Homo sapiens: one gene and its partners. The protein of the gene in region 5 interacts with the protein of the main gene of each other region in a pairwise test. Each region holds a gene or a part of one and is shown on either strand. Other genes may lie near its edges.

Region 1 (3,500 bases), on a different chromosome or scaffold from region 5:
ATCATCAAAATTATCAATCTTTTCTCTCATGGTTAGTGCTTTTTGTGTCATGTTTAGGAAATCTTTTTTTTCTTGAGCCAATTTCAAGTTCATGTTTCCATTAATAAGAAGTAGATATACTTGAACTTTGCACATGTAAAACCTAAATGTACCTATTAGCCAAAAAAATATTTTCCTTGTTTACTACAGTTTGATTTTTAATGCTCTTTTGGCCTACATTTTAAAAATACTTATATAGGTAACACCCTGTTTTAGGGGTTTCCAGAGAAACAGAACCAATAAAAAGGATGGACAGATGGGTAGATTAGATAGATAGATAGATAGATAGATAGATAGATAGATAGATAGATAGATGAGAGGTGATTTATTATGGGAATTGACTTACATGATTATGGAGGCTGAGAAATCCCACAGTAGGCCACCTGTAAGTTGAAGAACTAGGGAAGCCAGTAGCTTGGCTCAGTCCTAGTCTGAATGCCTGAGAACCTGAGTGGCTGCTTAGTACAAGTCCCAGAGTCTGAAAGCCAGAGAACCTGGAGTTGTGATGTCCAAGGGTAGGAGAGGATGGGTGTACCAGTTTCAAAAGAGAGAGAGCAGAGAATTCACCTTTTTTTCTGCCTTTTTGTTGTATCCGGTCCCTCAGCTGATTGGATGGTACCCACACACATTGGGTGAGGGTGGATCATCCTTATTCGTTTCACTGATTCAAATGTCAGTTTCTTTCGGAAACAGCCTCACAGACATATCTAGAAATAATGCTTTACCAGCGATCTCAGTATCTCTTAATCTAGTCATGTTGAAACCTAAAATTAACCATTATACATCTTGAATCATGGAAGTCCTTAAGGCTGTCATATCCTTTTTCTTTTTGAAATTCTATCCTTCTGTTTTATATATTTCTTGAATATATAGTGGAAGATTGTTTTTCTTGTGAATTTTTGTTAGTTTACATTTTCAAAAGATTGCTGATAATTTTCTTTTTTGTTTTTAATTAAAAAGAGACCTTTAGTTGAGTAAATACTTCTCATTTACCATTGATTTACTCTTGCTTTCAGGTCCTAAAGGGGATCCAGGTCAGACTATAACCCAGCCGGGGAAGCCTGGCTTGCCTGGTAACCCAGGCAGAGATGGTGATGTAGGTCTTCCAGGTATGTGAGGAATTTATTTCAAAGTAACTTCAACACCGATGGCTTTTTTTTTTTTTTTTTTGACAGAGTTTCGCTCTGTCACCCATGCTGGAGTACAGTGGCGTGATGTTGGCTTGCTGCAGCAACCTCCTACTTCTGGGTTCAAGCAGTTCTCCCTGCCTCAGCCTCCCAAGTAGCTGGGATTACAGGCGCCCACCACCACGCCCAGTTAATTTTTGTATTTTTAGTAGAGACGGAGTTTCTCCACGTTGGCCAGGCTGGTCTCGAACTCCTGACCTCAGGTGACCCATTGCCTCAGCCTCCCAAAGTGCTGGGATTACAAGAGTGAGCCACTGCACCTGGCCCTGATGGCTTCTTTCTTTGAACGTTTTCCTTTCAATAACTGCTGTTTCTCCATAGGTGACCCTGGACTTCCAGGGCAACCAGGCTTGCCAGGGATACCTGGTAGCAAAGGAGAACCAGGTATCCCTGGAATTGGGCTTCCTGGACCACCTGGTCCCAAAGGTATGTTGGAATGGGTAGCAGGCAGAGTAGGTTAGAAGTTTAGCATGATGTTATTCTCTCATAAAATTCATTCAACAAATAAAATATATTAATTGCACCTTTTTTCTCTGTGCTATAAAGAATGTAAATAAAAAATCACAGTGTATTTTCACTGTAAGTTCATTATCTTTATCTAAAACAGTCCAGACAAGAAAATATCTACATTTTAGATATGCAAAAGTGATATATAAGCTTAAAAATCACAGGAATTATTGTGTTTTGTGTTCACCATAGTATTTTCAGGGTTTAGAACAGTTCCTAACACATAGTGTGCACTTGATGTTTATTGAGTTAAAGGATTTTTTAAACAGAAAACAGACTTATTGCAGATGTGTAGCCAAGTAATGTTTTATGCTAAATAATATTTTCTTGATTTATTGAAATTTTTAGGGCTTATGCTTCAGTTCTGCTTTATTCCTCACAGAATTTATTCTCACAAATGGCAAGAGCACACAGTGGTCTGAGGACAGTTCTTAAATATATCTTTACTCATTTATACAAAATGCTTTCAAAAGTATCAGGTTTGATTTTATGTGTGTATGTATCTATAATATCTGCAGTTATTTTTAGATCATTTCCAAAATTATATGGTAGGCCCTTTGTCATACTACATCCAGATATAAGCAGAAGAAAAGTTCTTGGGCATTTTTGTGTGGGATTCATTCCTTACAATTTAGTTCTATCTTATTATATAATAGCCCTCATTTTCTTCAGAAAAGCATATGTTCCACATACATTAGCTCTATGTGAAAATAAAAGGAATGTAAGATGATTGAGAGGATTGTAAGGCTTAATCCTAAGTAGTAGAATGTCATTGTGCTTTTGACATCTTACTGTTGTCACTAAGCATGAGTAGAATGTGGGTTTGGGAATTTGAATATCTTTCTTAAAGTGCCTTTCCTTTGGTGGTTAAAAAATGACTTATCATTTTACAGGCTTTCCTGGAATTCCAGGACCTCCAGGAGCACCTGGGACACCTGGAAGAATTGGTCTAGAAGGCCCTCCTGGGCCACCCGGCTTTCCAGGACCAAAGGTCTGGGACATTTTTCTTTATTCCTTCTCATTTTCTTATCTTTCCCACCTTCCTTATTTCTAGCTCTCTATTTTGACTCAGATATCATCCCAAGCCCCAAGTCTTTACTATAAATATACAGATAACTTATTATATTTCCATTAAAAAAATATTTAACCCCAAATCATCTTTAATAGTCCAAGGTCACATTTGGAGCAAAAAAAAAAAAAAAAAAAACCTAATTTCTGTACCTACTTTTGAATGCCCAGTTCTTTGATTAGAGAATACAGGCATACCTTGGAGATATTGCAGGTTTAGTTCCAGACCACCACAATAAAGTGAATATCAAAATAAAGTGAATCACACAACTTTTTTTGTTTCCCACTACATATAAAGGTTATGTTTACACTATACTGTAGTCTTTAAAGTGTGCGATAGCATTAGGTCTAAAAAAAACCATATGCATACCTTAATTAAAAATACTTTATTGCTAAAAAATTTTAGCAATCATCTAAGCTTGCAGCAAGTTATAATCTTTATGCTGGGGGAGGGTTTTGACTCAATATTGATGGCTGCCCACTGATCAGGGTGATGGTTGCTGAAGGTTGGGTGGCTGTGGCCATTTTTTTAAATAAGACAACAATGAAGTTTGCCACATCAATTGACTCTTCCTTTCAGAAAAGATTTCTCTGCAGCATGTGGTGCTGTTTGATGGTATTTTACCCACAGTAGAACCTCTTTCAAAATTGGAGTGAGTCTTCTCAGACCCTGCTGCTGCTTTATCAACTAAGTTTATA
Region 2 (2,586 bases), on a different chromosome or scaffold from region 5:
GATAATTCAGGCTTAAAACCTGGAGTTGATCCTTCTGCAGAACTGGAAGTCAGAAAGTCTTTCTTTCCTTTTTATTTCTTGAGATTGAGATGTCTATCCTTGGTGTGTGTGTGTGTGTGTGTGTGCGCGCGCGCACGTTTGCATGCATGCAAGTGTGTGTGTTTAATTTTTGAGCAGTGGTATGCAATTCTCTTCAGTGTTCATCATGATACATTCTGCTAGCATGTAGTAGAAAAGATAGTCTAGGAGTCTTCAGACGTATGAAGTCAAGAGGATATGCACAATATAACACCATTTTGAAAGTAAAAAAAGTCCAAGTGCCTAAACTTAGTGGTATGTAAAGAGAATTATGAGGAGGGAAAGAAAATATAAAAATATGAGAAGAATTAGGCAAAGAATGTGATTGAAAGTATAAAAATAAGACTCAAACCAATAATTATAACTAAACATCCAGTATATGGAGTGATAACTTCTTAAAGAAATAAAGAGGAGGGGACAAATTTGTAAGCATCTCAATAAAGTATTTTATTGGCAGAATAAGCAAGAACCGAATCTAGTTGCCTAAGAAGAGGCCAACATTGCCACTGTTAGATTAAGAATCATGGGGGAAAAATGAGTGTTGAGCCATAGTCTAGCTATAGCTTCCCCAAGAATTTACAGAAATTCTCTTCTGGGGTACTGAATCCATAGGTGAATCTCTGGAAGGAGCACTGGCATTTGCTAGGGCTACTGTGCGGGCTGGAACTGAATATTGATTGTGTAAGAATATGTAAGAATGTACTCTGCCTGAAATCTTTTGCTCTAAAAGTTCATCATGGCCAACACTAGCTTTCAGAAATAAGCCAGATACAAGTCTTTTTGTGTAGAACAAAAGCTGATCCAGGTACCAGGGCATAGAAATATGAACAGAAACATTATCAGCACAGGACCCATACATTTTTATCTTCCAAGAGATAAAAGGAGAGGAGAGGAAGGGGGACAATTGAAATGGATATATATTTACACAATTTTTGAGGTATTGGACAGTATTTTTACTGTGTCTGGTTAAAATTAGCAAGCAAGTTTTTCCAACAGGAGGCAGTGCTGTTTTATGCTGTAATTTAAGTATAAAATTGATTTGTGCTATCAAATCACTCAAATTACATAAGTGAGGTCACAAGGCCTAACCTTGAGCTATGGGGGAAAAAGCAACCTTTAAGCCACAGCCTAAAAAAAGACTTTACCGAAGGGAATGGTGAATGCCAACTGTTCTGTAGCAGGAGAAAAGGATAAAATAAGCTGAAAGGGGTGGAAATACAGTAATTTGGGGGACCCTGTGCTTGAAGGGAAGTAAATTTCCTTAGGGCAGGAGAATATCATTAATACAATGACATGCTTGCGCGAAAGAATTTTCTGTTATCTATGGTAGAAAATTTAGAAAATGGTCAAAAGTCTGGTAGCTAGAAATCTAATATTAAAAAGGTACAGGAAAGTCAACTTTACAATTCATTTTCCAAACATTTGTTGATCCCACTTTCTATGCCAGGCACTGGGTTGTATAACGGGGATACAAAGATGAAAAAAAAAAGATCATAATCAAAGTATCTGAAAAAGAAAACCACTAAAGAAATGTTATTGAATGTAAAGGAAAACTGTAACTTCTTTAATAATACATTATTCAAATTCAAAGATGATAGCACATTTTGAGATTCAGATTGGTAATGTATCTTTGATTACACTTTGCAAATGTATTTGACAATTAACCATATACTACTACTTTTTATTACTGAGGTAGGAGGCAGGACTAGACTCTGGAGGTGGGGATTGGGCTCCAGACCACACTGAAGACAAGCTGAAAGGGAAGAGGTGAAAGAGTCTCTCCATAAAACACACTCACCAGTGCCACGTCAGGTTACCATTGCTAAGGCAACAGCTGGAAGTTTTGGCTCCTTTCCATAGCAACAATCCCACGACCTGGAAGTTACGACCTTTTTTCTAGAAATTTTGGCATAATCCACCCCTAAATTTGCATATAGTTGAAAGTGGGTATAAATGTGATTGCAGTACTGCTTCCGAGCTGCTACTCTGGGCACACTGCCTATTGGGAGCCCTGCTCCACAAAGCAGCTTTGTTGCTGCTGTACATTAAACCACTTTGATAAAAGTTGTTGTCTAACACCAGCAGCAGCACTGGCTCGTGCGCAAGTGACCGTGGACGACCACGCTGTGCCCTCCCTGCTGTCCCCTCTGGTCATCAAAGGATCCTTCCCTGGCTCGAGGCCCCTGCCTGGGCCCAGAAAGGCTGCTGAGGAAGCGAAAGGCAGGAATTAAACATGGGTTTTTCTTGAGCCACGCTTCAAAAAGTCCAACTCCCTGCAGCGGTCACCAAGGCCCTCAGGACCCCTCACCATAGCCTGCCCGAAGCCCGCAACCCACCTGGAACCTCCTGCAGTCCTTAGCCTGAGCTGGCAATTGTGCGCATGCTTGCAGACCCCTTCTTCCCAACGTGTGCTGGGGAAGACCCTAGGGCGCCTGCGCACACTCCCTCCTCCTCTTCCTCTTGAATAGAGCTAATGTGAATACCTGCTTCCCATGTCTCCATGACCTC
Region 3 (3,500 bases), on a different chromosome or scaffold from region 5:
TGTAGCTATAGGATGTCTGGTACTCCCCTGGCACAGAGAGGGTGCTTAAGAATTCTGCCCCTTAGGATTTTGACTGTGTCCACCAAAGTGATGAAGATGTTTACTTCTAAATGTTATCACTAATCATCTGCACACATGATAAGCATTTTTATGCTACAGATTCCTACAGGCATAATTCTGCTTCCATCAGTTCCTGGCCATTAATGCTCTTCCATCCTTCTGATGTAATGAACCGTCCAGGTTGGCACTTCCATTCCAGGCCAGGAGGCACAGAAAAAGTAAAAATGATGCTTCTTCATGTGATTCCTTGTGGCATTGCTCCAGGGAGAGTTTGCATTTTAATAAGGAAGAAAGTCCTAAGTCATAAGAATGAAACTACAGCAGGATTCTAGACCCTTTTGAGCAGTTGCGGGAACAGGGAAAAAGGTACAGAAAGGACAGGGGAAGCTCTGAAGCCACGGTGAAGACAGAGCACCTTGGAAAGGAAAGGTGGGAAATAACATTAGAGACAGAAAGACGAAAAATCACAAAATTAAATGTTTTAGTGAAAAAAAAATTTTGTGTTAAAATACTGATATAGTTTGGCTGTGTCCCCACGCAAATCTCATCTTGAATTGTAGCTCCCATAATCTCTGTGTGTCGTGGGAGGGACCCAGTGGGAGGTAATTGAATCATGGGGGCGAGTTTTTCCCATGCTGTTCTCGTGATAGTGAATAAGTCTCACAAGATCTGATGGCTTTATAAAGGGGAGTTCCCCTGAACACACTCTCTTGCCACCATGTAAGACGTGACTTTGCTCCTCCTTTGGCTTCCCCCATGATTGTGAGGCCTCCACAGCCATGTGAAACTGTGAGTCAATTAAACCTCTTTCCTTTATAAATTACTCAAGTCTCGGGTATGTCTTCATTAGCAGTCTGAGAACAGACAAATACAAATACTTGTAAAGAGGCACATTCATATATTGTATAAATATGACTTTGCAATAAAATTAATGGGATTTGGGAATGAACAATTTATCAGGCTTTTTTTGGCCTCAAAATGAATTTCTGTGTATTAGAGTGAGAAGTCTGGTGGAAATTGCATAAATAGATACAAAACATCAAATAGCATAGCAAGACAGAAACAGTAGAAAACATATGATGATTTCTAGAGAATACTGACCTAGATTCTTCTTAAAACAGAGGAGAGGAGAGAGAGAAAGGAGGGGGGAAAAGAGAGAAAGAAATGTCACTTTCTTTGAAAGGAACATTTAAAAGTTTAGGAAAATAATAGACTAGTAACTATGAAGGGAACAGTGACTCACAGTAACAGGGATGATTATGAAAGATGGAAATAGTGACTACAAAATATCAATGGGCAAAAAAAAAATGAGTTAAAAACATCAGTGAGTTACACATCTCTGATTCCTTATCTATTCTTTGATTTCTTTTGTGATTCTCAAGAGCACTGATCCCCTCCATGTGCTGGGTGACACGGGAGGCCCTGGCGCAGTGATGAGGACTGGCTGGGCTGTCAGAGAGCCACTAGGACAGCTGCACCCACACGCCATGAAAGTGTGATGCTGGGACTTCTGGTTTAAGAGGGATGGGGTGGGTGGGGATGAAAGGCACTTTTATTCCTCTTTTTTCTAAAACATAGGCAAAACAACAAAGACAGTGATAGATGGAGGAAAATATCAGATGTACTAAAACAAATAACTAAACAAAAAGGCCACCACTTGTTTTATAAACCATGAAACATACATGGGATAACTTTAGGAAAGACACCAAGAGTTGACATATACTTCAAGCTTCAGGCAGGTGCAAAAGTTTCCCCCAAAGGAAGGTCAAAAATGTCTAAAGGGCATATGCCATGAGCTTTTGAGGAGAGTAGCAAAATTTACAACATAAGTCAAAATTTTCCCTGTAGAGACATAATTTGATATCACATACAGAAGGGAGCTAAGAGAAAACATGTTAACACTATACTCATGTTTACTTTTTTTTTTTTTTTTTTTGAGACAGAGTCTTGCTCTGTTGCCCAGGCTGGAATGCAGTGGTGAGATCTCAGCTCACTGCAACCTCCACCTCCCAGGTTCAAGCTATTCTCCTGCATCAGCCTCCTGAGTAGCTGGGACTAAAGGAGCCCACCACCACGCCCGGCTCATTTTTTGTATTTTTAGTAGAGATGGGGTTTCACTGTGTTAGCCAGGATGGTCTTGATCTCCTGGCCTCATGATCTGCCCGCCTCGGCCTCCCAAAGTGCTGGGATTACAGGCGTGAGCCACTGCGCCTGGCCTACTTTTTTATTGTATTACTATTGTAATCCTTCTAGCCAACGAAGGCTTCCACAGGCAATGACATGGCTATAGAAATTCCAAGGGAGTAGACGTTAAAAAAGAAAAAATGTATACATGATATATATAATATACATGCATATATTAGATATTAGATATAGATGCATATACATGTACACACAGAGAGACTGAGATTTTCTAGATAATTCTTTTATGCAGAAAGTATGTATCTTTGTGCTTTATGCTAATGGAAATTTTCTCTTAGATGACTATTCTGATAGAAAGTATTTGAATTTTATATGGAAAGTCCAAAGAAGGAAATATTAAGTAATATGGAAAGCATTAAACTCTGCTATGCTAAACAATGGAATCTGAGAGATTTGCTGGTTAGCTTCAATCTGAGTACTCATTTATTTAAGTTTTCAGAGGACAAGGATGAGGGAATGAGGAGTGTCAACAAATTATAATGCTCTCTGGCCATTGTGTTTTTCTCAGGGTTAAGGGCTATTTATTTCATCCAAGAAAATATAATTTGGCACACAGAAAAAGCAATTCAGTGACCATCTGAGTGTCTACTAATTGGTCTTAAAGCAAGCATGTAGGGCCTTCTACCAGCTACAAACCTGACAAATATGAGTAATCCACTGGAAGGACTTATGATCAACTTTCTGATTCTTCCTACAATGGACTTGGTGCATGTGCTAGACCACATCACTGAGACTTCTGTTTTCCCCCGAAATCAGCTGGCAAATGAAAGGTCTGAATTTGAATTAAATAACAACTTCTTACTCATCTTTACAGTTTGTGATATATATGAGTTCTCTTCTCCTGGCTACACAGAGGTTAAAATCTGTAGGGTCTCTGAGGGCCTTTAAAAAAACATGGTTTATGTGCAGACAATGGAAAATTAACAGACTTGTGAAGGAAGTTGAGTTATGAAGAGAATCTAACTGAAAACAATGAAAATCAATGAAGTCAAAACAGACCCAAACATTAAGAGGCATTTACTTCAGTGATAGTAGCTAATGGCACAGCTGGGTAACTGAAGAAGTATGAGCTAATACTGATCTCCTCTCCCAAGTTCAAAAGCCTGGTTGACCCAAGGACCCTACCTTTCAAGTTTGGGCTGCTTAAGAAACTGATAGACTGAATTGTGTCCTCTGCAAAATTCATATGTGGAAGCCCTAACCCCCAGAATCTCACAATGTGACTGTATTTGGAGACT
Region 4 (3,500 bases), on a different chromosome or scaffold from region 5:
GCTATGGACCCGCATCCTCATGATTGACATGTGCCTCTCCACGGCGATAACCAGCAAGTTGGTGAGGGAAGCAGTCAAGCTACTGTCCAGAAGCCCCTGACGGAGAAACCAGCGGTTGACAGTCAAAGTTTTTGAAACTGGGCCTGTGTTAAACATCAGGAATACATAGGCAATTCCAGCGAAGAAATCGGCAGCAGCTAAATTAGCCAACAGGTAGTAGAAGGGGAAATGAAATTTTCTGTTTTTGATCACTGCCGCGATGACCAGAGAATTAGAAAAAAAAATAAACAGGCAGAAAAACGTCCCAACACACAAAACAATCACAAGCTTTGTTCCTGTCCAGTCATCGACAGTATCAGTGTTGCTCCTATTATAAAAAAAGTCCATGTGCTTGTCATAGTGACACTCATTCATTGTGGAGAAGTGAACATCCTAGAAAGAAATTTAAAGAAGAAACAAATATCATTTGTAAAATCAGTCACTAAGCCATCAATTGCTGTTTCTAAGCCCGTTCTGGCTAACTCCCATCAAGGGAGTTGAAGACCTGAAGTGTCAGGTCTCAGTGCAAATGTCCTTTGGTCCAGGACATAGCCCCTGACCTCCTACCACAGCATTTAGCGCACATTTTAATTGTTTGTTTCCCAGGCTAGGCCGCTCAGGTTAGGAGGGTGTATCTCTATTTTGTTCACCATTACAACCCTAGGATTCAGTTGCTCTGTCTGCCTCATGGTGGGTAATTATTGGTAGGTTGGCTGGCTGGCTGAATGAATGAATGAATTCTCATGGAGGCATCAACAGGGCAAATGTGCTGAGCCCTGCAATATCCACTCTGCACTGGTAACACAATGACAACACATTATGTTAATGCCTCCTCCTGGCTCCCAGTTCATTAGTTATTTATGGATATGTTCATTAATCAACGGCAGGTTGGTAATTTCAGGTACATTCTTCCCAAGATAATAGGAGTTGAATTACCATTCACATAACCAAACAGATACCCCAAGAGACCAGTTTTCTATGACTTCTGATTCCACTCCTGATCCTCCTTTTGCCATCTTTTGGTTTCAACAAACAACTCTGATATTCACATATTAGGTATATGATGCAGGGATGGAGACTTTGGTCCCAATATCTCCCTTCCTTACCTTTTGTTCACTTCTTCCTTATAGTCTCCTAACCCAAACTGTACCAATGTGAACCTGCTCACTGGATTTTCCAGCATTCCTCAACACGGCAGGTGGAGGAGGATCGGGCTTCCACAGGCAAGACTGAGATTTGGAATTGGGGCAGATCTCCAACTCAATGTGGATGTGAGAACATATCTATTAAGTGAGGGCATGTTCTTCAGACACTTGTCTGAAAGAAGACCCCAAACTGGGATATCAGGCAGACAGGGAAGACACTAATCCTCTCAGTAAAAGATCTCTTGAATCCCAAAAGCGAGGGATCTTGGCCAAGGAAGGGCTGGGCAGAAGCCCCACGGATGCCCATCTGTCTACACGTGGTGGGGAAAACCAAGTGTTCTGCCTCACAGTGGTCTGGCCACAGCCATGAACGGTCCTACGGAAGAAGATTGGGCTTAGGGTCAGGGTTCTAGCTTCTTGGAAGAATGACCATCTGCTCCCTCACTGAGAATGAGGCTGCAGCTTATTCCCTGGAGAACCAGAGATTCAGTCGGCAGAGGGACTGAGCAGCCCTCTGGGAGCTGTGACAGTAAAAGCTCAGTAAAAGCCCCCAGATTTTAAAGTTCCTGAAAATTCTGAAATCTAATACCACAACCAGAATCAAGAAGACCAGATAACTATTAAGTAGTACAAAATAGAAATGTATCTCAGTCTTTTTTTTAATTTATATTTTAATGGTATAATGATACTTTTACATGAATTAGATATTGCTTTTTGGCCATAGCAAATGGGAGGTAAATATCATTTTATATGCTTAAAAAAAACTGGGAGTAGTCTCAAGAGACAAATGGTTCCAGTATCTTTCAATTACAAGAAAGGAAGACTCAATTTTCATAATGACAAAATAAAAATTACTCTCTTTGGCAGACAGTCACCAATATTTAACTGTAAATATCAAATAAATTCATGATAATATCATATATTTACACTATATCATAATTTCCCCAAATTAAAAATACAGGTAGTATAATTTTAATAGCTTCACAATATTCTATTATATGAATAGGCCACACCTGACTTAACTAATCCTAAATACTGGACATTAGGGTTGCTTCCTGTATTTCACTTTTATAAGCAAGGCTGCATTCTTGTTCATTAATCTTTATATATCTAGCCAATTGTTTCTTTAGGAATAACCCATAGATTTCAAATTGAAGTAAAGGATATAAATCTATTTAAGGGTTTCTGATACATCTTGTGAAACTCCACTTAAGAGAGATAGCATTTTTTTTTTTCCAAGATGGAGTCTTGCTCTGTCGCCCAGGCTGGAGTGCAGTGGTGCAATCTTGGCTCACTGCAACCTCTGCCTCCTGGGTTCAAGTGATTCTCCTGTCTCAGCCTCCTGAGTAGCTGGGACCACAGGCGCATGCCAGCACGCCCGGCTAATTTTTGTGTTTTTAGTAGAGACGGGGTTTCACCATGTTGGCCAGGATGGTCTCGAACTCCTGATCTCAGGTGATCCGCCCACCTTGGCCTCCCAAAGTGCTGAGATTACAAGCATGAGCCATCACACCCAGCCTGAGAGATCATATTTTTAATTCTACCAGCAGCATATGAGAGTTAAATACAAGGTGCTAATCTAGTGATACTCAATTTAAATATTTAAAGAGAAATACAGCTTTCAACCATGTTGAAAGTATACAGAAATTCAAGACAAACAATCCGAGAATCACTTGCTATGGTCTGAATGTTTGTGTGCCTCCAAAATTCATGTTGACACCTAACCCTAACTGCAGTGATATTAATAGGTGGGGACTTTGGGAAGTGAATGGGATTAGTGCCCTTATTGAAGAGGCCTGAGAGAACTCGTGAGACCCTTTTTGCCACACTGCCATTCAAGGACACAGCATTTGCCCCCTTCTGGAAGCAGAGACCAGGCCCTCACCAGACACCAAATCTACTGATGCTTTGATCTTGGACCTCCTAGCTTCCAGAATAGTGAGCAATAAATTTCTGTTATTTATTAATTACCTAAAGTATTTTTATTATTGCAACAGGAATAGACTAAGACACCACATGGGAAAATTTAATAATACAATTATTATGTGTCTTTTCTAATTAAAAATAATGTATATATTTTACTTTGTTTCATGCTCTATACATCTAAGAGAAACATTTCTAATTTAAAAGTTATATTATCTTTGACTAATTTATTAGAAATATAAAGATGAATATGTCACAAAGACATTGGAATTAAGACACTACAAAAATACTACTCAAATTTTCCTAATTTTATTTTGAAGGATCTTAACATTTTAGTTTTATTTCTTACATGTGGTCGAATTTTTAATTATATCAAGCACTAACACCTCAATG
Region 5 (3,500 bases):
GTGCTTTTGTCGAAAATCAACTCACTTTGTGTGTGTGGTTCTTCCCCAGGACTCTCTCTTCTGTCCCACTCTTCTCTGTTTCGGTCTTTATACTGTTACCATGCTGTCTTGATCATTGTAGCTTTATATTGAATCAGGTGATAGAAGTTACCCAACTTTTCTTCTTTTTCTTTTTTCCAAAATTGTTTTGGCTATCCTAGGACCCTTTGCATTTCCTTATGAATTTCAGAATCAGCTTGTCAGTTTCTAGAAACATTTTCATTGGAACTACTTGAATTTCTAAATTAATTTGGGAAGAAGTGCCATCTTAGGCAAACTGAGTCCTCCAATCCAGTGCCATGGTAAGGTGCTCCATTTATTTAGATCAGTCTCATCCTATATTTTCTTGTAGTTTTCAACGTATTGGTTTTGCACACATTTTGTTAAATTTATTCCTACATATTTTGTGGTTTGGGATGCTATTATAAATGATTTTTTAATTTTCCACTTATTTGTTGCAAGTATATAGAAGTACAATTAGCTGTTGTATATTGATCTCGTATCATGTGACTTTGTTAAATTCATTCATTTCTGTAGTTTGTTTCTTTATTTTTCTTCTTTTCCTTCCCTCCCTCCCTCCCTCCCTTCCTTCCTTCCTTCTTTTCTCTCCTTTTTACTTTTTTCTTTCAATAAAAACAAGGTATTCTGTGTTGCCCAGGCTGGAGTAGAGTGGCTATTCTCTAGTGATTTTTTTCTTTTTTTTTGAGATGGAGTTTCTCTCTTGTTGCCCAGGCTGGAGTGCAGTGGCGCAATCTTGGCTCACTGCAACCCCCACCTCGCCAGTTCAAGTGATTCTCCTGTCTCAGCCTCCCGAGTAGCTGGGATTAAAGGCATGTGCCACCACACCCGGCTAATTTTGTAGTGATTTTTTTTTTCTTTGAACAGGGTTATTTAGAGATATGTTACTTATTTTCCAAATAATTGAGAATTTTTTAAATAGATTCTATTGCTCAGGATTTTTCATTCAATTCTATAAGGCCCAGACAACATACCCTCTAATATTTTAGTCTGTTAAAAAATGTTGGAGACTTATTTTACGCCCCAGTATATGGCCTAACTTCATGAATATTTCATGTACACTTAACGAATGTAGCATTCAATAGTTATAAAAGTCCCCTCCACAAGCTGGAAACCCTGGGATGCCAGTGTCATGGCTCAGTCCAAGTCCAAAGGCTTCAGAACCAGGGAAGTCAGTGGTGTCACTCTTGGTCCTGGGCCAAAGGTCTCAGAGCCCTGAGGAGAGAGGAGGTGCTGGTGACATCTGGGAGTCCAAAGGTCGGGGGGCCTGGAGGTGTCCAAGGACGGGGGAGGAAGAGTGTATCCCAGCTCCAGCAAACAGATGGACATATTCGCCTTATCTTTGTTTTTATTTTATCTGGGCCCCCAGCCTATTAGATGGTGCCCACCCTCATGGAGGGTAGATCTTCCTCACCTGGTCAGTCACCTCTGGAAACATCTTCTCAGACATACTCAAAATAATCCTTTACCGGGTTTCTAGGTGTTCCTTAATCGGTCACCTTTGACCTTTGACACCTAAAATTAACCATGACACCCACACCCACCTCTGGCTGCTTTCAAGTTTCTATTTTCTTGCCTTTGATTATCAGCCAAAGTTTTGCTGTGATATAATTAGAATTTGTGGCTTGATATATTTTGTTAGGCTCAGAAAATTGGCCATGATCTTTTCAAATATTGCTTGTGTTCTGTTGTCTTTCCTATCTTCTTCTGGGTCTCTGGTTACACATGTGTTCAGTCTTTTGCAATTTTCAATGTGTCCCTTATGCTTTCATCCATATTTTCCATTATTCTCTAAGCTTCAATGTGGATATTTCCTACTGATCATTTTCCATTTTACTAATCCTTTCTTCATCTGTGTCTAATTTGTCTATTTCATTATTGGGGCCTTAATTTGAGTTATTATGTTTTTCAGTTGTAGAATTTATATTTTAATCTTTTTGATAAATTCTGATTACCTGCAGAAATTCTCCATATTGTCTTCTAATAACTCCAGTATTGGTATCCCCTGGGTGAGGGTGGGGGAGGTGTCTATTTCCTGTTTTTTCTTTTGATCTTATCTCCTAGTAACCTAAGGAGTTTTTCTTTTTTTCTTGGATTCTAGACAATATGTGTGAAAAATTGTAGAGATGACTTGAGGCTTCCTTTGATGTTATCCTCACCAAAGAGCAGTTCTGTGCTTCTGCCTGTTGGTCAAGGATGGACAGCTCGTGTTCAGTAGAGGCTGAGCTGGTTTGAAACCGGACTTCCCAGCCTGTTTCTGGTTAACTCTTACTCCTGGGATGGGACCCTTCAGGGACCCCACCCAAAGCTGGGGTGCTTTTTTTTTTTTTTTTTTTTTTCCTCTTCAGATGGAGTCTCGCTCTGTTGCTCAGGCTGGAGTGCAGTGGCGCGATCTTGGCTCACTGCAAGCTCCGCCTCCTGGGTTCACGCCATTCTCCTGCCTCAGCCTCCTGAGTAGCTGGGACTACAGGCACCCGCCACCACACCCGGCTAATTTTTTTTGTATTTTTAGTAGAGACGGGGTTTCACCCTGTTAGCCAGGATGGTCTCGATCTCCTTACCTCGTGATCCGCCCGCCTCGGCCTCCCAAAGTGCTGGGATTACAGGCGTGAACCACCGTGCCCAACCTCAGGGTGCTTTTTTTCTTTCTTTTTCTTTTTCTTTTTTTTTTCTTTTTTTTTTTTTTTTTGAGAAGGAGTCTTGCTCTGTCACCCAGGCTGAAGTGCAGTGGCATGATCTCGGCTCACTGCAACCTCCACCTCTTGGGTTCAAGCAATTCTGCTGCCTCAACTTCCCGAGTAGCTGGGACTACATGTGCATACCACCATGCCCGGCTGCGCCTCTCCTCCTAGATGGACACTGAATTCCAGTGTTTGTCCCTCCAGCTCCATGAGTCTGAGAAGGCCCCACTTAGCTTCTCAGCCTCTTAGCTACCACATCCCTCTCAGCCTCCACCCCTTGAACCCCTTGACTTCCGGGCAGCAAAAGCATCGGGGCCAGTTGCTCCAAATTGGGTCTCACCTCCACACTTCCTTCTCTTTGGGGTGCTGGTCCTCGCTGACTTGGTGGTTCTCTGACACCTTTAAAGAAACTTCTTAAAACCTGGGTTGTTATCTGCAGGAGGGTTGGTCAGTTACAGAGTAGTCAGCCATGGCCATAAGCAGAACTCCGTTTCATCCACTTCTGGTGCCCCCCACCCCACATGACCCCCCACACATCTGGGGCACTAGAGAGATAGTGCCCATCAGAGAATTGTCTTTTGACAGTGGTCACTCTCACAATTTGCCGGCAAACATTCTGGGCATATAGGGCTGACTCATTCGGGACTTAGCTGCCATAGGCTTGGATTCTTGTTGGAAACAGCTGCTATAATTTATTCTGATGAATTACTGTTCCAAAGATGGTATTTCTGAGCTTTCCAAGAACACACTGGACATCAGTTC
Region 6 (4,241 bases), on a different chromosome or scaffold from region 5:
TTGAGGTCTCTTAGGGTTCCAGGGCAGCCCAGAACACCAGAACAGGGGGTAGATGGCAATAGAGAGAGGAGACGCTGAGATGGAAATTGATGAATACATGAAAGAAAGATGAAGATAGCTGAGAGGGAAGGAAAGGAGAGGCCAGAGTACTGCAGGGCCCACACAGGAGCTTGGGGATAGCGGAAGTGCAGGCCTCAAATGCACTGCCCCACCAGCTGTTCCAGATGGTACCTGAGGCGTTGATGACAGACCGGATGATGTCGGGGTGGCACAAACTGAGGAGGGGGGAGATGGGTCCCATCCAGACCTTAAAGCCCTGGGGGTAGGTGGCCACCAGCTGAGTCAGAACTCTCATGCCCTCCTCTGTGGGGTTGACCTGCAAGCAAGGCAGGGGTCATTACCTTCTGTGATAGTTAATTCTAGGTGTCTACTTGACTGGGCTAAGGGATGCCCAGGTAGTTGGTCAAACATTATTTCTGGGTGTGTCTAATCTATTCATCCTATCTATCTAATTTTTCTATCTATATATCTATCTGCCTACCCATCTATCCATCAATCCATTTTATCTGTGCTTTCATCCATCCATATATTCATCTGTCTGTCTGCTTATCATCTATTAATAGCCATCTATCCGTCTAATCTATCCATCATATATATCTACTCCATCTGTCTACATAATCTATCCATCCTATCTACTCTATCTACCCATCCATCCATCATCCATCCATCCATCCATCCTATCTGTGCATCCGTGTGTCCATGCATCCATATGTCCTATTATTTGTCTATCTATCTATCCATCCATCCATCCATCCATCCATCCATCCATCCATGCTATCTGTGCATCCATGTGTCCATGCATCCATCTATTCTATTATCTATCTACCTACGTGCCTGTCCATCCATCCATCCATCCATCTATCCATCCTATCTGTGCATCTATCTATCTATCCTATTAGCTATCTATCTATCTATCTATCTATCTATCTATCTATCTATCTACATTCCTCCTGCTCTATCTATCTATCTATCCACATTCCTCCTGCTCTATCTCTCTTGGGTCCATCTCCAAGTCCCAAGGGTGCATCCCAGGGCAGAGGGAGAAGACGCACTGTCCACTCACAGAGGCCCAGTTATCTTGAGAGGAAGGATTTTCTTTTTCTGGGAGTCATTTCAGCCCAGAGGCAGCTATATGGGGAGGTCCTCACAGGGGAGATTTGTGGGGAGCAGTATCGCCTCAGGACATGTCCCTAAGGCTGGTCCCCACATGCCTTCATGTCCTGGCTGATCCACAGAGGCTCCAGTTCCTCCCATGGAGAAGGTTCTGCACATGGGAGACCTTCCCTTTTCAGCAGCCACTAGTGGAGCAGAGGTGACTCTAACTGTCCATCAGGACAATGGCTCCCACCTGGGAGCAGCTTCTGCAGCAGGCTCTGTGCTAGTGTGTCCTGTGCACCCTTCCACTTTATCTGTGGACACATCCATCAATCCTGCCATTTGCAAATGAGCAGACTAAGACCACATTCCCCAAAGAGGAGAGCGGTCTAAGTCAGAGGGCAAGGTCACGGGGAGGAGAAAGGCCAAGGAAAGCTTCTGAAAGGTGAAGTGAGTGGCCAACTTTTATCTGGGTTTGGCAACAGGTCTCATTGATAAGAGGGAGATAAGAAGAAGAATATAAGAGAAAGGTGCCTTCGGGTGTAGTGGAAGTGGGAGACGGCCCATGCCTCTCCTCTGGCCCAGCTGTACCCTCATAACAGGAAATAGTCCAGGCAAGGAGAGGACCCTGGACAGTGGGCATAAGAAGCCTCGAGTCCAGCAATGGAGAATGTGGGAATGCCAGGGACTCGCCTCTCTGTGCAGCCAACCCTCTGCCCAGGAGCCCCGCAGAGGTGCATTAATGTGGGAAGACAGGCAGGAAAAGGATTCAATGCAGGCCTGGAGTGGGAGGACAAGGAAGTGAGAAGGGCTTGCGTAGGCACCTCACAGAAATGAATAAGCAGAGGAATGAGTAAGATGCCTCCTCTGCTTCTCTGCCACCCCAGATCCCAGCCCACCCCTTCACCCCCACTCCCTAAGCCTCGTACCCCTCAGGAAGTCCATCCATCCTGAGACCTAGACCCATCCTGCTGCCACACTCACCATGCCCTGGTGTCCCCAAAACCAGTTCCGTCTTGGGGGTTGTGGGAAACACCGAAGGCGGCGGCAGTTGTCATAGAAGGCGTAGGTCCAGGCCAGGACATGGGCCAGGAGCCAGGAGGCCCCGACCAGCAGGAGGAGCAGCCAAGGGGATGCTGCCACTGGCCAGAGGCCCAGCCAGGACAGGCTCAGCTGGGACATCCTGCAGGGCAGACGGGATGGACGGTGAGATCCTGAGGCCCAGAGAACGGCCCAGGGACCTCCAGGGACAGTGGAGAGGCAGGGACGGGCAGTGCCGGAGGTAGAGCAGGGAGGGCTCAGGGATGGGTAAAAAGGGGCTGAGAGGTAAAGTCCAGAAAGGCCCAACCAAAACCAGCAGCCAAGTGGCCTCCAGTTCCCTAGTAAGCACTTAGAATGGGAAAGAGAGAGAGAGACTGATTAAAGTCCAGAAAGGCCCAGCCTGAATCACTGTGAGGTTGCCAGGGGCTTGGTTTCAGTTACTCGGAAACCACCCATCCTCCAGGCCAGCACCCAGGAGCTGCGTGGGCCTTGGGCAGTGCCCCTCTCCATCCCAGGCCAGGACCCCCCCCAGGCCTGCCACCCCCAGCCTGGCACCTTCTGTCAGGAGCAGTCTGTCCCAGACAACCTCCTCTCTCTGTCTGCTGGGAGGCCTTTGACCCTGGCCCTTGATATAGCAAAGGCTGTGGGAGGGCTGGCTGGGTTGGGCTGGGCCAACCAATCCCTGCAGCCTGGATGTGTCTCCTGAGCCTGGGCAGCCAATCAACACCTGGCGTCAGGCCAGCTGGGTGCAGAGGAATCAGCTCAGGGTCCAGATGGATGGGTAGATGCACAGATAGATAGAGTAGATAGGATGGATACATTAGGTAGATAGATAAAGTAGATATAGATAATGGATATATTAGACAGATGGATAGATAGCTATTAATAGATGATAGATAGATACATAGATAATAGGATAAATAGATGGAATGGATAAACGTACAGCTAAGATGGATTGATGGATGGATGGGTAGGCAAATATATATATAGATGAGAAATTAGATAGATAGGATGAATAGATTAGATAGACACACCCAGAAATAATGTTCCATCTCTGTCCCAGATATGTGGGATCCTCATTTGTGACATGGGAACTAGGGATCTTGGATCACTCCAATCACTCCAGATGCTACAAGGCCAGTGACTTACTCAGTATGATGCTGAGGAACATGACCATCAGAAACAGGATCAGAGTCACTCTCAAGCAAAAAAAAAAAAAAAAAAAAAAAAAAAAAAAAAAAAAACTCCAAGGATTAAATGATTTTTCCCATTGTCCTGGGGAGAAATTAATCCAAGGGAGGTCACAGGAGGGCAAATAATTCCCCATCACCACCACCACCACCATGAGCATACCATCACCCATGGAGTTTTCTGATTTACTCTTTGGCCCATTAAGCGTGAAATTTCTTATGCTAGGTTTCTTTCTGATAAGGGAGAAGAGATTAGTATCTCTACATTTCCTCTCCTCCTGCTACCTAGTCTCTGTATTCTAGGTTAAATTATAATTTATGTTGAGGATTTACAATGGCTGATACACCTAGCTGAGCCTTCTGCACAGAGATACATTGGGAGTGGAGGTTAATTGGGTCAAAGGAGAAATGCCATAAGCCCACACTCCAGCCTATCAGGGTGGATTAAAGGTCTGATTTGCCCAACTCTTGTCACACCTGCTCCCACTGAGAGGTGACAGCATGCTGGCAGTCCTCACAGCCCTCACTCGCTCTCGGCGCCTCCTCTGCCTGGGCTCCCACTTTGGCGGCACTTGAGGAGCCCTTCAGCCCACCGCTGCACTGTGGGAGCCCCTTTCTTTTCTCTTCTTTTCTTTTTTTTTGGATTTTTTTATTATTATTATTATACTTTAAGTTTTAGGGTACATGCGCACAATGTGCAGGTTAGTTACATATGTATACATGTGCCATGCTGGTGCGCTGCACCCACTAACTCGTCATCTAGCATTAGGTATATCTCCCAATGCTATCCCTCCCCCCTCCCCCCACCCCACAACAGTCCCCAGAGTGTGATGTTCCCCTTCCTGTGTCCATATG
Region 7 (3,500 bases), on a different chromosome or scaffold from region 5:
GGGTCTGTACTCCCGACAATGGGTGTGCGTCTGAGCTCTGCGGATCCTGAAAAGCTCCCAGAGCCCACCGCACCCTCCTGGTACTCAGGGAGGGATTTCTAGGCCAGGGAGGGACTCAGACTGTCCCTGCAGACTCTAACTATCACATGCCACCAAGAGCCACCACGGGGCTTCTGAGCATTTGTTCCACATCCACACCTCCCGTCACAACAGCTGCCCTTGTGTAGGGGCCTACCAGGAGGTGCTGCTTCTGCAAACGCTCCCTGGCCCCGAGGTGTGGAAGCTCCGGGCCCTGGAGATGGAAGGCGGCTGCCTGGGGCCTCCGGAGCGGGGAGCTGACAAGGCTGTTGTTCAAATGCACCACAGGCTTCTTCTCATCAGGCGTGAGGAAGTCAGTGCTTTTGCCAATGACTTTCTGGCCCAGTGGTGCACAACACAGAAGTCCCCTCTTGTCACCCCAGACCCCTTTCCACCCAGGCTCACCCTTCTGAGTGGTGAATTCGAAGATCTCCGAGCTCTCGCCGGGGTTAAAATGCCTGAAGTAGGAACAGTTCTTCTCTGCAAAGGAGGAGACAGACTGTGAGTTGAGGGGAGCAACCCGTAGCAAGGACAGAGGCCTGGCAGAGAGCGTGGTGTCATTCTGCTCGGCATGCAGGGGGCTCTGGCAGCCTCTCTTCTCCCCAGATCCTTAATCTGGGCTGAAACATCTGTCTTTGACCCTTAGAACAACATCTCAGTGGGATAATGAGGTTGCCTGCAGGGCTGGGAGGTCTTCAGGGAGCTGAGGCTGGATGAGTCTGCAGGGCAGACGGCCTGTGGGTTCTGCACCCCATTAGGCAGACAGGGTAACCGAGGCCCAGGCTCAAGCCATTTTTCAGGGTGTGCAGGGTGCACAATCAACAAAGAACCAAACAGCAGTCTCTGTTGGGGCCGATTCTGCCCCCCCAGGGGACACTTGGCGATGCCTGGGGTTATGGTGGTGGTGAGAGGGGTACACCTGGCACCCAGCCGGTAGAGGCCACAGACGTTGCTGAACATCCCAAGACACACAGGACAGGTCCTCCCAACATGGAATGATCCAGGCCAAAATATCAAGAGTGTCAAGGTTGAGAAACCCTGGATCAACCCCAAACCTGGGACTGTGTTTCTCATCAGAATCCAGGCACACCCTGGTTCATTGGTGGGACCTGGGAAACAGTGTTTTTCAAAAGCTTTCTGGGAGAGCCTGATGTGCAGCCAGGATGGGAACCCTGCTCCAGGCCCCTTAAAATGCCCTGCAAAGGGCTTTTTCCGAGTGGCCATTGGGATGGCCTGGATGCAGATGGAACCCCTACGAGGGCTGAATGTGACCATCATGTGGTTTCACTGGGTCCCTGGTCTTTGCGAGACAGCCCAGATGAGACCTGCCCCCACAAAGCCGCTTGGCCCACCTGATAATTGTCATAAAAGCTATGGAAAGTCTGTGGGCAGTAGGAACGCAAATCTGAATTTGATGAGGGAGAGGGGAGGGGCTCAGCACAAGGAAATTCATGCTGATTTAAAATATAATTTCATTTCCATTTTTCTCTTTCAGTCTCTCTCTCATAGCTAGGTATACTATAAAATCAAAGCACAGGCCGGGCGTGGTGGCTCACACCTGTAATCCCAGCACTTTAGAAGGCTGAGGCAGGAGAATTGCTTCAACCCAGGAGGCAGAGGTTGCAGTGAGCTGAGGTCGTGTCACTGCACTCCAGCCTGGGTGACAGAGTGGGACTCTGTCTCAAAAAAAAAAAAAGCACAGTCTTATTTCTTGCTAAATACGGTTTATCTTCTTTGCTCTTGATTTAGGAAGTGGATGAATGGGTTATTTTATATTATGTTTCCTTCCAAAACTAAATTAGTTTGCTTTTTATTTGTGGAGGCCCTTCATTGATTTCTTTTCCTGTGGATCAGTGACCCTTAAATAGAAAAACATCTCTTTCTCTAGTTGAGATGGTGTCTAGTTTGCCAATTCATTTCTTCACTTCCAGGCTTCATTTAGATGCTCATAAGGCGGTTGATGCCTAGTTCTTTCTGGAAATGTACCTGCAGTGATACCAAGGCTTTTCTTTGGGATGAAGACTTTCTTTAACCGGACCTAAATCATTCTTCTTGCACCTTAAGCCTGTGGTCTCATACCATGCCCCTCCTTCCCCCCAGAGCCAGGGCTGCTGCCTCTCCTGAGGTTGAGGAAGCAAATGACCCCTGGAGATGGGATCTGGTTTAGCAGCAGTACCCATTCCTGGCATAAACAGCCTTCTCTGTGTGCTTCTATATTTAAATCACTTTCCTTTTGAACCGCGTTACCTGGGGTGTCTGACTGCTGGTGGTGATGTCAGAATTGGTGCTCTGCTATTCTCTCTGGGCATCCGGTGCTATTTTAAAGCATAATGCAGATCTCTTCTATTTGTTAGATTATTGGCTGTAGATCTCTCGAATCACTGCTTCAAAATGGCCCATGCTATGTCATAAGTCTCCATGTGTCTCCCTCTGGACAAAGAAACATTTCTGTTTCTGTTTCATTCTTGAAGGGCCAATTTCAGTTGTCAGAATTGACTGAATTCAAGTGTATTTCATGGTCAGCTGCCTCCCTGACTGCTCAAAAGCCATAAGTTAAAATCCTTCCCAGCGGAGGGCCCTGAGATGAGGGCCATGGAGTGCCTTGCTGGGGGCACAGCTGTTTGCACCTGGTGGGTTGCTGAGGTGACTCTCACACAGGTAGCATTTGGCTCACCAAATCCCCACCAGATAAACGCCAGGCTCCGCCTGGCTGCTGGCTGCTTGGATAGAAATGATCTTAACTCAGACACAGGGGTAGGCTACGTGTCTGCAGGAGCCAGGTTGTGAGCTTCTGGGGGGATGCTTTTCTTTTGGTGGTCCAGGTACAGTGTTCCTCCTCCCTCTTCTCCATTAAGTGTCCTCAAATGGAGGGAGGGGGCCTCCAGTGGGTAGGATTCCTTCTCAGGGTAACAGGAAGCCTCAGCTTCACTCTTACATGGCTGAACTGGGGGCCTGAGGACTGATGGGCTGACCTCTCCCCTTTCTTGGGCTTAGCATGTGAAAAAGACCGGTGTCTCCTGCCCTGAACCTGAGAGAAACATCCACTCCTGGGCTATGTGGCTGCCCATTGGAGACCATAAACCCTTTCATGGTCTCTAATGGCCCCTGTAGGGGTGGGGGCACGTCAGACCCAGGCCTCATTTAGGACAAATCAGGCCAGGCATCTGCCCATGTTACTCAAGAGGGTGCAGGGTCCTGTTCAGATGGACAGACCCTACTATGAGCCCCTTCCCTCCCTGCCCTGTTCCTGGGTCTAGGTGGATATTATTTGGGAAACTGAGCATCCAGGGCAACGTAAAGAGGAAGGACATCCGAGGTGGACCCATCTTAGTCATGGGTCAAGAGGAGAGGGACCGTGACGGTCCTGTGCAGACTCTCAGTCTTCCTGCCTCTGCCTCTGGGATGCCCCTCTCTGCCCCGCT

Evidence for each region.
Region 1: the proteins of THAP4 (region 5) and COL4A5 interact in binary tests that used the Homo sapiens proteins (3 or more experiments, as listed by UniProt).
Region 2: the proteins of THAP4 (region 5) and GIMAP1 interact in binary tests that used the Homo sapiens proteins (3 or more experiments, as listed by UniProt).
Region 3: the proteins of THAP4 (region 5) and AIG1 interact in binary tests that used the Homo sapiens proteins (3 or more experiments, as listed by UniProt).
Region 4: the proteins of THAP4 (region 5) and LPAR3 interact in binary tests that used the Homo sapiens proteins (3 or more experiments, as listed by UniProt).
Region 6: the proteins of THAP4 (region 5) and CYP4F2 interact in binary tests that used the Homo sapiens proteins (3 or more experiments, as listed by UniProt).
Region 7: the proteins of THAP4 (region 5) and CACNG1 interact in binary tests that used the Homo sapiens proteins (3 or more experiments, as listed by UniProt).

The regions. Positions count from the first base shown.
Region 1 is NC_000023.11:108,600,338-108,603,837, forward strand, and holds part of COL4A5 (collagen alpha-5(IV) chain isoform 2 precursor), read left to right. Parts: intron 1-1,055; coding exon 1,056-1,148; intron 1,149-1,547; coding exon 1,548-1,652; intron 1,653-2,626; coding exon 2,627-2,724; intron 2,725-3,500. UniProt on the Homo sapiens protein: Type IV collagen is the major structural component of glomerular basement membranes (GBM), forming a 'chicken-wire' meshwork together with laminins, proteoglycans and entactin/nidogen.
Region 2 is NC_000007.14:150,722,199-150,724,784, reverse strand, and holds the end of GIMAP1 (GTPase IMAP family member 1), read right to left. Parts: 3' UTR 501-2,586; downstream 1-500. UniProt on the Homo sapiens protein: May regulate lymphocyte survival. Required for normal levels of mature T-lymphocytes and mature B-cells.
Region 3 is NC_000006.12:143,137,389-143,140,888, reverse strand, and holds part of AIG1 (androgen-induced gene 1 protein), read right to left. Parts: intron 1-3,500. UniProt on the Homo sapiens protein: Hydrolyzes bioactive fatty-acid esters of hydroxy-fatty acids (FAHFAs), but not other major classes of lipids. Show a preference for FAHFAs with branching distal from the carboxylate head group of the lipids.
Region 4 is NC_000001.11:84,865,707-84,869,206, forward strand, and holds part of LPAR3 (lysophosphatidic acid receptor 3), read right to left. Parts: intron 433-3,500; 5' UTR 415-432; coding exon 1-414. UniProt on the Homo sapiens protein: Receptor for lysophosphatidic acid (LPA), a mediator of diverse cellular activities. May play a role in the development of ovarian cancer. Seems to be coupled to the G(i)/G(o) and G(q) families of heteromeric G proteins.
Region 5 is NC_000002.12:241,585,159-241,588,658, reverse strand, and holds part of THAP4 (peroxynitrite isomerase THAP4), read left to right. Parts: intron 1-3,500. UniProt on the Homo sapiens protein: Heme-binding protein able to scavenge peroxynitrite and to protect free L-tyrosine against peroxynitrite-mediated nitration, by acting as a peroxynitrite isomerase that converts peroxynitrite to nitrate.
Region 6 is NC_000019.10:15,895,275-15,899,515, forward strand, and holds the start of CYP4F2 (cytochrome P450 4F2 precursor), read right to left. Parts: upstream 2,801-4,241; 5' UTR 2,752-2,800; intron 2,339-2,751; 5' UTR 2,338-2,338; coding exon 2,140-2,337; intron 377-2,139; coding exon 232-376; intron 1-231. UniProt on the Homo sapiens protein: A cytochrome P450 monooxygenase involved in the metabolism of various endogenous substrates, including fatty acids, eicosanoids and vitamins.
Region 7 is NC_000017.11:67,051,054-67,054,553, reverse strand, and holds part of CACNG1 (voltage-dependent calcium channel gamma-1 subunit), read right to left. Parts: intron 559-3,500; coding exon 484-558; intron 1-483. UniProt on the Homo sapiens protein: Regulatory subunit of the voltage-gated calcium channel that gives rise to L-type calcium currents in skeletal muscle. Regulates channel inactivation kinetics.